Homo sapiens: one gene and its partner. The protein of the gene in region 1 purifies or fractionates together with the protein of each later gene. This does not show direct contact. Each region holds a gene or a part of one and is shown on either strand. Other genes may lie near its edges.

Region 1 (3,500 bases):
ATGTTCATAATTACAACTAGGACCCAATCTCTTTCACAAGATAACCACTTACAGCTAACAAAAACCATATAATGCAAACTAACAAATTATATTCTTCATAAGGAAATATAAGGAGAATTCTAACTCATTAGTATGTTATTGTTCTGCCCAACTATGGATAAGTTATCTATACATGCCTAACAAAGTCAGGTAAGACCAGAGCTCCAAAGGACAGGTTTATTACTTCTTTTAAGAGAAAGTATAGATAACTTTTCCAAATTTCTATAATATGCATTGTTTTTGCCAATCTAAATCTTTAATAGATTAATGTTAAAATGAACAGTATCAATCTGTTAATAGGAATGGGGAAAGAGGAAAATAAAGGAATGATTGGACATACCCTATGTAGTATTTCTAAAACCTTTAATGCAGTATGAAGAAAACTGTTGAAAATTCTTCTTTCAGAAGGGGGAATACCGATCTTGTAGAGTTTCAAAAGATGTACCACAACTTCCTTAAAAAGTTCTACTATCTTGAGGAATAGTGGAGGTTCAAGTACTGACCACCAGTTTTCTGTTATTAAAAAGTGAACATGCAAATAAAATGAATTTTTTAAAAAATCACAATTTTCAAAATCATACTGACTTTTTTTCTGAAACAGTAGTTGTTAAACCTGAGAAAACCCCAGAAAGATGCATATAACACAATATCTTATGTAACATTTGTAAGGTTTATAAACCTCCCCCCGACCAAGTTAAACAATATTGTCCGAAAAGCTCTCAAAAGCAAAAATAAAGTGTGAAAGTCTTGTTGAATTTATATTCTTGGTTTCCTAAGTTATATAAAAAACTCACCACTATACCTAATATTAAAACCAGTTTTTAAAAAATGTTTTGAAAATTACAGTTTCAATTTTTAAACAAAACATCCTTTAAATTGTATTGCTCTAATACTAAAGGATCTTTCTAACTTTTATCTTTCAATTTAATATATGGTTGAAATATTGTGAACCACTACCTTTAAAATGCAAGGTACTCCTGAAGATCAAATACAGAAGCTGAACAATGTAAAGTGTAACATATGGGTCCTTCCCCACATTCACTATTTGTAGTTACTAAGTACAAACACTTCAATCCTATGAAGCAGGCAGAAAGAATACAAAAACTTCTGACAACAGGAAAGCAATACTCTTTTCAGTCCCTGCTTGACTCTTTTTCCCTCAGATTCCCATATTCTACCCCTTGCTTGTTGCTTCCTCCATTTACCCTCAGCCTTAAAGTTCTTGTACTGACATTATTACTTCTATATATCTCAGCTCCACATATCTAACAAATACCATTAGAAAGAAAAGCACTGGGTTAAATGTAGCAAAAAAAGTATAAAGGCCAGGAAATAGAGATAAAATCTAGACAATTAGAAAAATTAAAGTGAGAAAACTTTATGCCAAAAAACCAGAACAGTAAGAGATAGAAGTGCAAGATCAGATGAGCAATAAAATCTAGTCTATAGGCAGAAAAATAAAATCAAATATCATGAAATTAGCAAGTGAAGGAAACACAAGATAAAGGGCTTATATCAGGGTTCCAAGAAGATTTAAAGCCCATGTTTGTTCAGTTTTAATTGTTCCTCCTCCTTTACTTCTTTAATAGCAAGATTATACTAAAGGCGATGAGGGAAAGGAATACGGGTGACAGTTTTTAACTTTCCTAATACTGTCTCTGCTGTTATGTTTAATTGAACTTCTATATCTAACATGTTTTTCTTTCAACAACTCCAACAACTAGAATCAAAAGACTAGACAAAAGCAAGAAAAGGAAAAACAGGTTCATTTTTGCCTAAGACAGTGTCAAATAAGCAGGGCAGCAGAACTGCAAATGGCAAAAGAACTTATGAAGCATTTTCATTTAAAGAGAAAAGGTTTCAAAAGAAAAAATATTAGAATTCTTACCAAGTACTTTCAGTGGTGCCTTTTCTAGGTTCACAAGAGCTGTACCAAAGGGAATTGCTATTGTTGTGAAATTGTTGGAATCACTCATCAGGGGACATTCTGGTAGAGTAAGATAAAACCTCAATGCTTCAACATCAGGTAAGGAGCTAGTCAGTTTAGGAATAAGATTCTTTTCCAAACTAGCTGCCACCTATATTTTGACAAAAAGTAAAACCTACTTCATTTAAAATGAATACACTTTCAAAGAAAAAAAAAAAAAAGGAAGGCAGGAAGAAAAGAAAGAAAAGGAAAATTTTGCACTACAGCAAATATGAAATGGTGAAGAAGAAAAAAGAAAGACAATGTCTTACAATGAATATACTTTGGAGCACAATGAAAATTAATGCCTAAGCATTACTTGGAGAATTTAAAAAATCACGTGTACAAGTCTCAATTTAAACTCTCTACCTCTATAACCATACACAAACTTAAGCAACGTGGTAATGTTAAGTAATTCAGGGTCTGCTTCAAACATCTGAAAAGATTTATAGATCTTTGACAGCTAAATTACAAATGCTTTAAAATAAAATCTTATTTTAAAAGCACATCGTAAGAGTCTGTGAAACTGCAAAGTAAATTAGGCTATAAACGTATAAAACAAAAGAAAACAAAATCAACAGATAATACTGTAAACATAATACTTTAAAAACAGACCTGCTGAGATATCTGCGGATGATCAGGTTGTATAAGTTTGTGGAATAAAAGCCTAGCAGCATTCATATCAACCCCTGAAAATCTGGTACCTGTTCTATAGTGATCATCATTGCTAAAAAACAGAAAAGAAAAAAAAAAATAGAATAAAAATTTAAAATTATTTCATTTTTTAATTTGATATACTATTTAAGACAATAAATTTGAAAATTTCAGCATATTAAAGAATTGCCACTTACCTAACAGCTAAAAAACTTCCATTTAGGCAACCAGAGGAAGAAAACGTTCCATCTATCTCACTAAAAAATTTAAAAAAGTTTTTTTAATCATAGAATCAGAAATTTAATTGTTTACCCTTTCTTAAAAAAGAATTAAAATGAATAATTAATCTAATGTTTAATGCTACAGAGCACTCCTCTAACACCCAATTAGATGAATCAGAATTACATAAATTGCTAAAGACTGATAAAATAATACTTGATGAAGGTATTACTGTTTATTCTAGACTTTCTTAAATATTACTTTCATCCATTTATCCAATGTTATCTGCTTTAAAACATGGTATTTTAAAAATTAAGTGTGTATGTTCATGTAAAAAGTTTTTTAATTTAAAAAAATTTTAAACATTTTATATTGGCAGTGAGCCTAATCTGGGATGCCTTTGGGATTTTCAGAAAAATTATAGTTTTGGAAAACAAGCTAGAGAAACAAAACAGCTTTTCAAATACAACCCATCATCCCAAATACCAACAAAAAACAAATAACATCTTAAGTGCTACTAGGCAAGTTAACAAAATATTCAAGAAAGAAATAATACTCAAGTCTTCCACAAAGTATAAAAGTTAAGATAGTGACCATTATAAAACCAGAAGGAACACATTTC
Region 2 (4,572 bases), on another chromosome or scaffold:
TCAAGAAACCAAGAGGTTTAACATCGCAATATGGGAAGGTATGATATATTATCATTGTGTTTTTTTTAATTGTTGTTTTATTGATGACAAACCATAACCTTGGCCTGCTAGAAGAGTTCAATGGCACAAATTTAGTTTTTTTTGTTTTAGACGGAGTCTCGCTCTGTCTCCCAGGCTGGAGTGCAGTGGCACAATCTGGGCTCACTGCAAGCTCCACCTCCCAGGTTCACGCCATTCTCCTGCCTCAGCCTCCCGAGTAGCTGGGACTACAGGTGCCCATCACCACGCCCAGCTAATTTTTTTGTATTTTTAGTAGACACGGGGTTTCACCGTGTTAGCCAGGATGGTCTCGAACTCCTGACCTTGTGATCCGCCTGCCTCGGCCTCCCAAAGTGCTGGGATTACAGGTGTGAGCCACAGCACCCGGCCCACAAATTTAGTTTTTTAAAGTAAGTAACTTTGTCTTAAAAATGATTTGTAGTAATAGTCATTAAAAGATAAACTGAGGCACATTAAAATATTAAAGCATTTATTTGACCATTCAGTGATTCATGAATCTGGTAGCTCCTGATAAAGGAGCCAAGGAGAAGGCTTTTATAGGGTGAATTTGGAAGCAAAGGAAAGATATTTGATTGGTTAAAGTGGAGTACTAGACTTATTTGGGTCATCCCAGTGGAAAGTCCCCAGTTAGAAGTTAGCTGGCAGTTTCTGATTGATTAAGCTTAAATTTCCTTTTTATCATTTACACTGATTTGGGTTTCCTTTCCTTAGGTAGGAACTCATGGAGCTGAAGCTACCTCAGCCTACTGGCCTTCTAATTATTTCAACACAGAAATAGTACTTTACGGCACACTGGAGTTGCAATTCTATTCTGCAATTGGGTGGTTTCAGATTTGTTCTTCCTATAAATTTTGGTCAAATTAGTCATTGCATTTCTTTCTATAAGTCTGAGATTCAGATATTTGGTTGCTCTGAGAAAGTCTCTGTTGAGATAGCATTGCCATACTGGTCAGATTGAAAGTGACTTTGTATCCTTTCTATTAATGTTCTGATATGAAAGAGTGATGACTCGGATATAGTGTTAATGCATTAAAAAAGCACAGCCTGACAAATCGCTTCCTATAATACACAGAAAAATGTCTAGTCTTGAATTTATAACACAGGGAAAGGTAAAAAATTTAATTATGCTTCCTAATGTTGAACATGCACGTGACAAAGTAAATACTAAAAATCCATTCAGCTGGGCGTGGACAGGGAGAGGGAACGGTGCACATCAGAGGGTGCAGGCTACTCCAACGTTTCCGTTTCCTCAGTCTCGCGGGAAGCTCCGTTGTGGGCGCCCCGGCTGGTGGCTGAGCTCAGGCCTTCAGGCAGAGGGGAGGCGAGGGCGGGGCGGTCACGTGAGAGCACTGCCGCGGTGGGTTGTGGGGGTGCTGCGGCGCCGTTTGCTTTGCCAAACCGACAAAAGAGAGATGATGGCCAACGACGCCAAGCCCGACGTGAAGACCGTGCAGGTGCTGCGGGACACAGCCAACCGCCTGCGGATCCATTCCATCAGGGCCACGTGTGCCTCTGGTTCTGGCCAGCTCACGTCGTGCTGCAGTGCAGCGGAGGTCGTGTCTGTCCTCTTCTTCCACACGATGAAGTATAAACAGACAGACCCAGAACACCCGGACAACGACCGGTTCATCCTCTCCAGGGGACATGCTGCTCCTATCCTCTATGCTGCTTGGGTGGAGGTGGGTGACATCAGTGAATCTGACTTGCTGAACCTGAGGAAACTTCACAGCGACTTGGAGAGACACCCTACCCCCCGATTGCCGTTTGTTGACGTGGCAACAGGGTCCCTAGGTCAGGGATTAGGTACTGCATGTGGAATGGCTTATACTGGCAAGTACCTTGACAAGGCCAGCTACCGGGTGTTCTGCCTTATGGGAGATGGCGAATCCTCAGAAGGCTCTGTGTGGGAGGCTTTTGCTTTTGCCTCCCACTACAACTTGGACAATCTCGTGGCGGTCTTCGACGTGAACCGCTTGGGACAAAGTGGCCCTGCACCCCTTGAGCATGGCGCAGACATCTACCAGAATTGCTGTGAAGCCTTTGGATGGAATACTTACTTAGTGGATGGCCATGATGTGGAGGCCTTGTGCCAAGCATTTTGGCAAGCAAGTCAAGTGAAGAACAAGCCTACTGCTATAGTTGCCAAGACCTTCAAAGGTCGGGGTATTCCAAATATTGAGGATGCAGAAAATTGGCATGGAAAGCCAGTGCCAAAAGAAAGAGCAGATGCAATTGTCAAATTAATTGAGAGTCAGATACAGACCAATGAGAATCTCATACCAAAATCGCCTGTGGAAGACTCACCTCAAATAAGCATCACAGATATAAAAATGACCTCCCCACCTGCTTACAAAGTTGGTGACAAGATAGCTACTCAGAAAACATATGGTTTGGCTCTGGCTAAACTGGGCCGTGCAAATGAAAGAGTTATTGTTCTGAGTGGTGACACGATGAACTCCACCTTTTCTGAGATATTCAGGAAAGAACACCCTGAGCGTTTCATAGAGTGTATTATTGCTGAACAAAACATGGTAAGTGTGGCACTAGGCTGTGCTACACGTGGTCGAACCATTGCTTTTGCTGGTGCTTTTGCTGCCTTTTTTACTAGAGCATTCGATCAGCTCCGAATGGGAGCCATTTCTCAAGCCAATATCAACCTTATTGGTTCCCACTGTGGGGTATCCACTGGAGAAGATGGAGTCTCCCAGATGGCCCTGGAGGATCTAGCCATGTTCCGAAGCATTCCCAATTGTACTGTTTTCTATCCAAGTGATGCCATCTCGACAGAGCATGCTATTTATCTAGCCGCCAATACCAAGGGAATGTGCTTCATTCGAACCAGCCAACCAGAAACTGCAGTTATTTATACCCCACAAGAAAATTTTGAGATTGGCCAGGCCAAGGTGGTCCGCCACGGTGTCAATGATAAAGTCACAGTAATTGGAGCTGGAGTTACTCTCCATGAAGCCTTAGAAGCTGCTGACCATCTTTCTCAACAAGGTATTTCTGTCCGTGTCATCGACCCATTTACCATTAAACCCCTGGATGCCGCCACCATCATCTCCAGTGCAAAAGCCACAGGCGGCCGAGTTATCACAGTGGAGGATCACTACAGGGAAGGTGGCATTGGAGAAGCTGTTTGTGCAGCTGTCTCCAGGGAGCCTGATATCCTTGTTCATCAACTGGCAGTGTCAGGAGTGCCTCAACGTGGGAAAACTAGTGAATTGCTGGATATGTTTGGAATCAGTACCAGACACATTATAGCAGCCGTAACACTTACTTTAATGAAGTAAACTAGGCTTATTTCTAAAAAGTCAAGTCTATTGGCTTTGGCCCAAAAGCACTGGTATCTTTGTATTAAATTCATGTTTATTGTCACAAAACCATTATTTATACCTATACAGTTGTACTGTTTCTTTTAAAGCAAAGCCATTTAACATCTTTCTTCATTCCTAATTTGGAAATTAAAGTTTACCTTTCTGTTAATCTATGTATAAATGTTACTCTGAGTTATTAATGTGGATTTTAAAATTGTAAGCAATAGAATAGGAAATAAAACAACTACCTAATACAAATATTTCTGATAAGACTACAAATATCTGACTGAGCTGGGGATTAAAGTAGAGGTAACTGTATCTTAAATGAGTATGATTTCCTTGTAAGTTAAAAAAATTGAAATTTAATTGTAGACTTCAATAGTCCAAGTTTTGAAGGATGTTTGAGCTTTTGTATAATGCCATTTATACCTGCAGTTTTACAGATAATGTTTGACTGCAGTTGCCTTGGAAATTCCTCCAAAGTTTGCCTTCATCTCTCCTCTACAGTTTGGAGGTGATGGTGCAGCAGTGGAACATCTCTTGATGCACCACACTACTTGTGTTCTGTGAAGTGATGAAAGTATAACTGGTTCTAGTTTGCACACTACACACATAGTTTTGTGAAGCTTCAGAAATGTTTTTTCTTTTCCTTGTGGCCAAACCAGTTTGTTAATCTGATTATATTCATCTGCTAATGATACTAAAGTTAATGTAATAAAGCATTTAAAAATCAGATACTTCAGTCTGTGCTGTGTATGTGGGATTTGATTTCTTCCTGATGAAATCCTAAATAAGGAGAACTTGTGTCTAAATAAGAAACAGAGAGAGTCATGACCCCCAGAAGCAAACCTGGAAAAAGGTTGAAGCTGGAGATAAGTTACTAGAGAAGATTGTATGGACTAAAAAGCCATCCCTTAAGCAGACTCCTGACTTTTGGCTGTCAGTGTGTAAATATATGCTTGGAGTACAAGAAAGTACCAGTCAGGCAAATCATAGATGGACCCAAGGTTCCAAACTAAATTAAATTACTCTGTGTCTATGTCAGGTAATTATTTCCTTACTTTTATTACCCTCATTAAGTTCTTTGGAGGCATAACCAATTTGTCTCAGCAATCATTGTCTTAGGAGGTATAATAGAGCCAAAAAATATTAATACTAACCTGGGAATTAGAGAAACCAGGCTCTCCTCATCTGC

Evidence for each region.
Region 2: the proteins of HERC4 (region 1) and TKTL2 purify together in Homo sapiens (co-immunoprecipitation; one large-scale study listed by IntAct). This does not show direct contact.

What each region holds. Positions count from the first base shown.
Region 1 is NC_000010.11:67,988,284-67,991,783, forward strand, and holds part of HERC4 (probable E3 ubiquitin-protein ligase HERC4), read right to left. Parts: intron 2,917-3,500; coding exon 2,857-2,916; intron 2,733-2,856; coding exon 2,621-2,732; intron 2,118-2,620; coding exon 1,928-2,117; intron 553-1,927; coding exon 380-552; intron 1-379. UniProt on the Homo sapiens protein: Probable E3 ubiquitin-protein ligase involved in either protein trafficking or in the distribution of cellular structures. Required for spermatozoon maturation and fertility, and for the removal of the cytoplasmic droplet of the spermatozoon.
Region 2 is NC_000004.12:163,470,635-163,475,206, reverse strand, and holds TKTL2 (transketolase-like protein 2), read left to right. Parts: upstream 1-1,452; 5' UTR 1,453-1,472; coding exon 1,473-3,353; 3' UTR 3,354-4,112; downstream 4,113-4,572. UniProt on the Homo sapiens protein: Plays an essential role in total transketolase activity and cell proliferation in cancer cells; after transfection with anti-TKTL1 siRNA, total transketolase activity dramatically decreases and proliferation was significantly inhibited in cancer cells.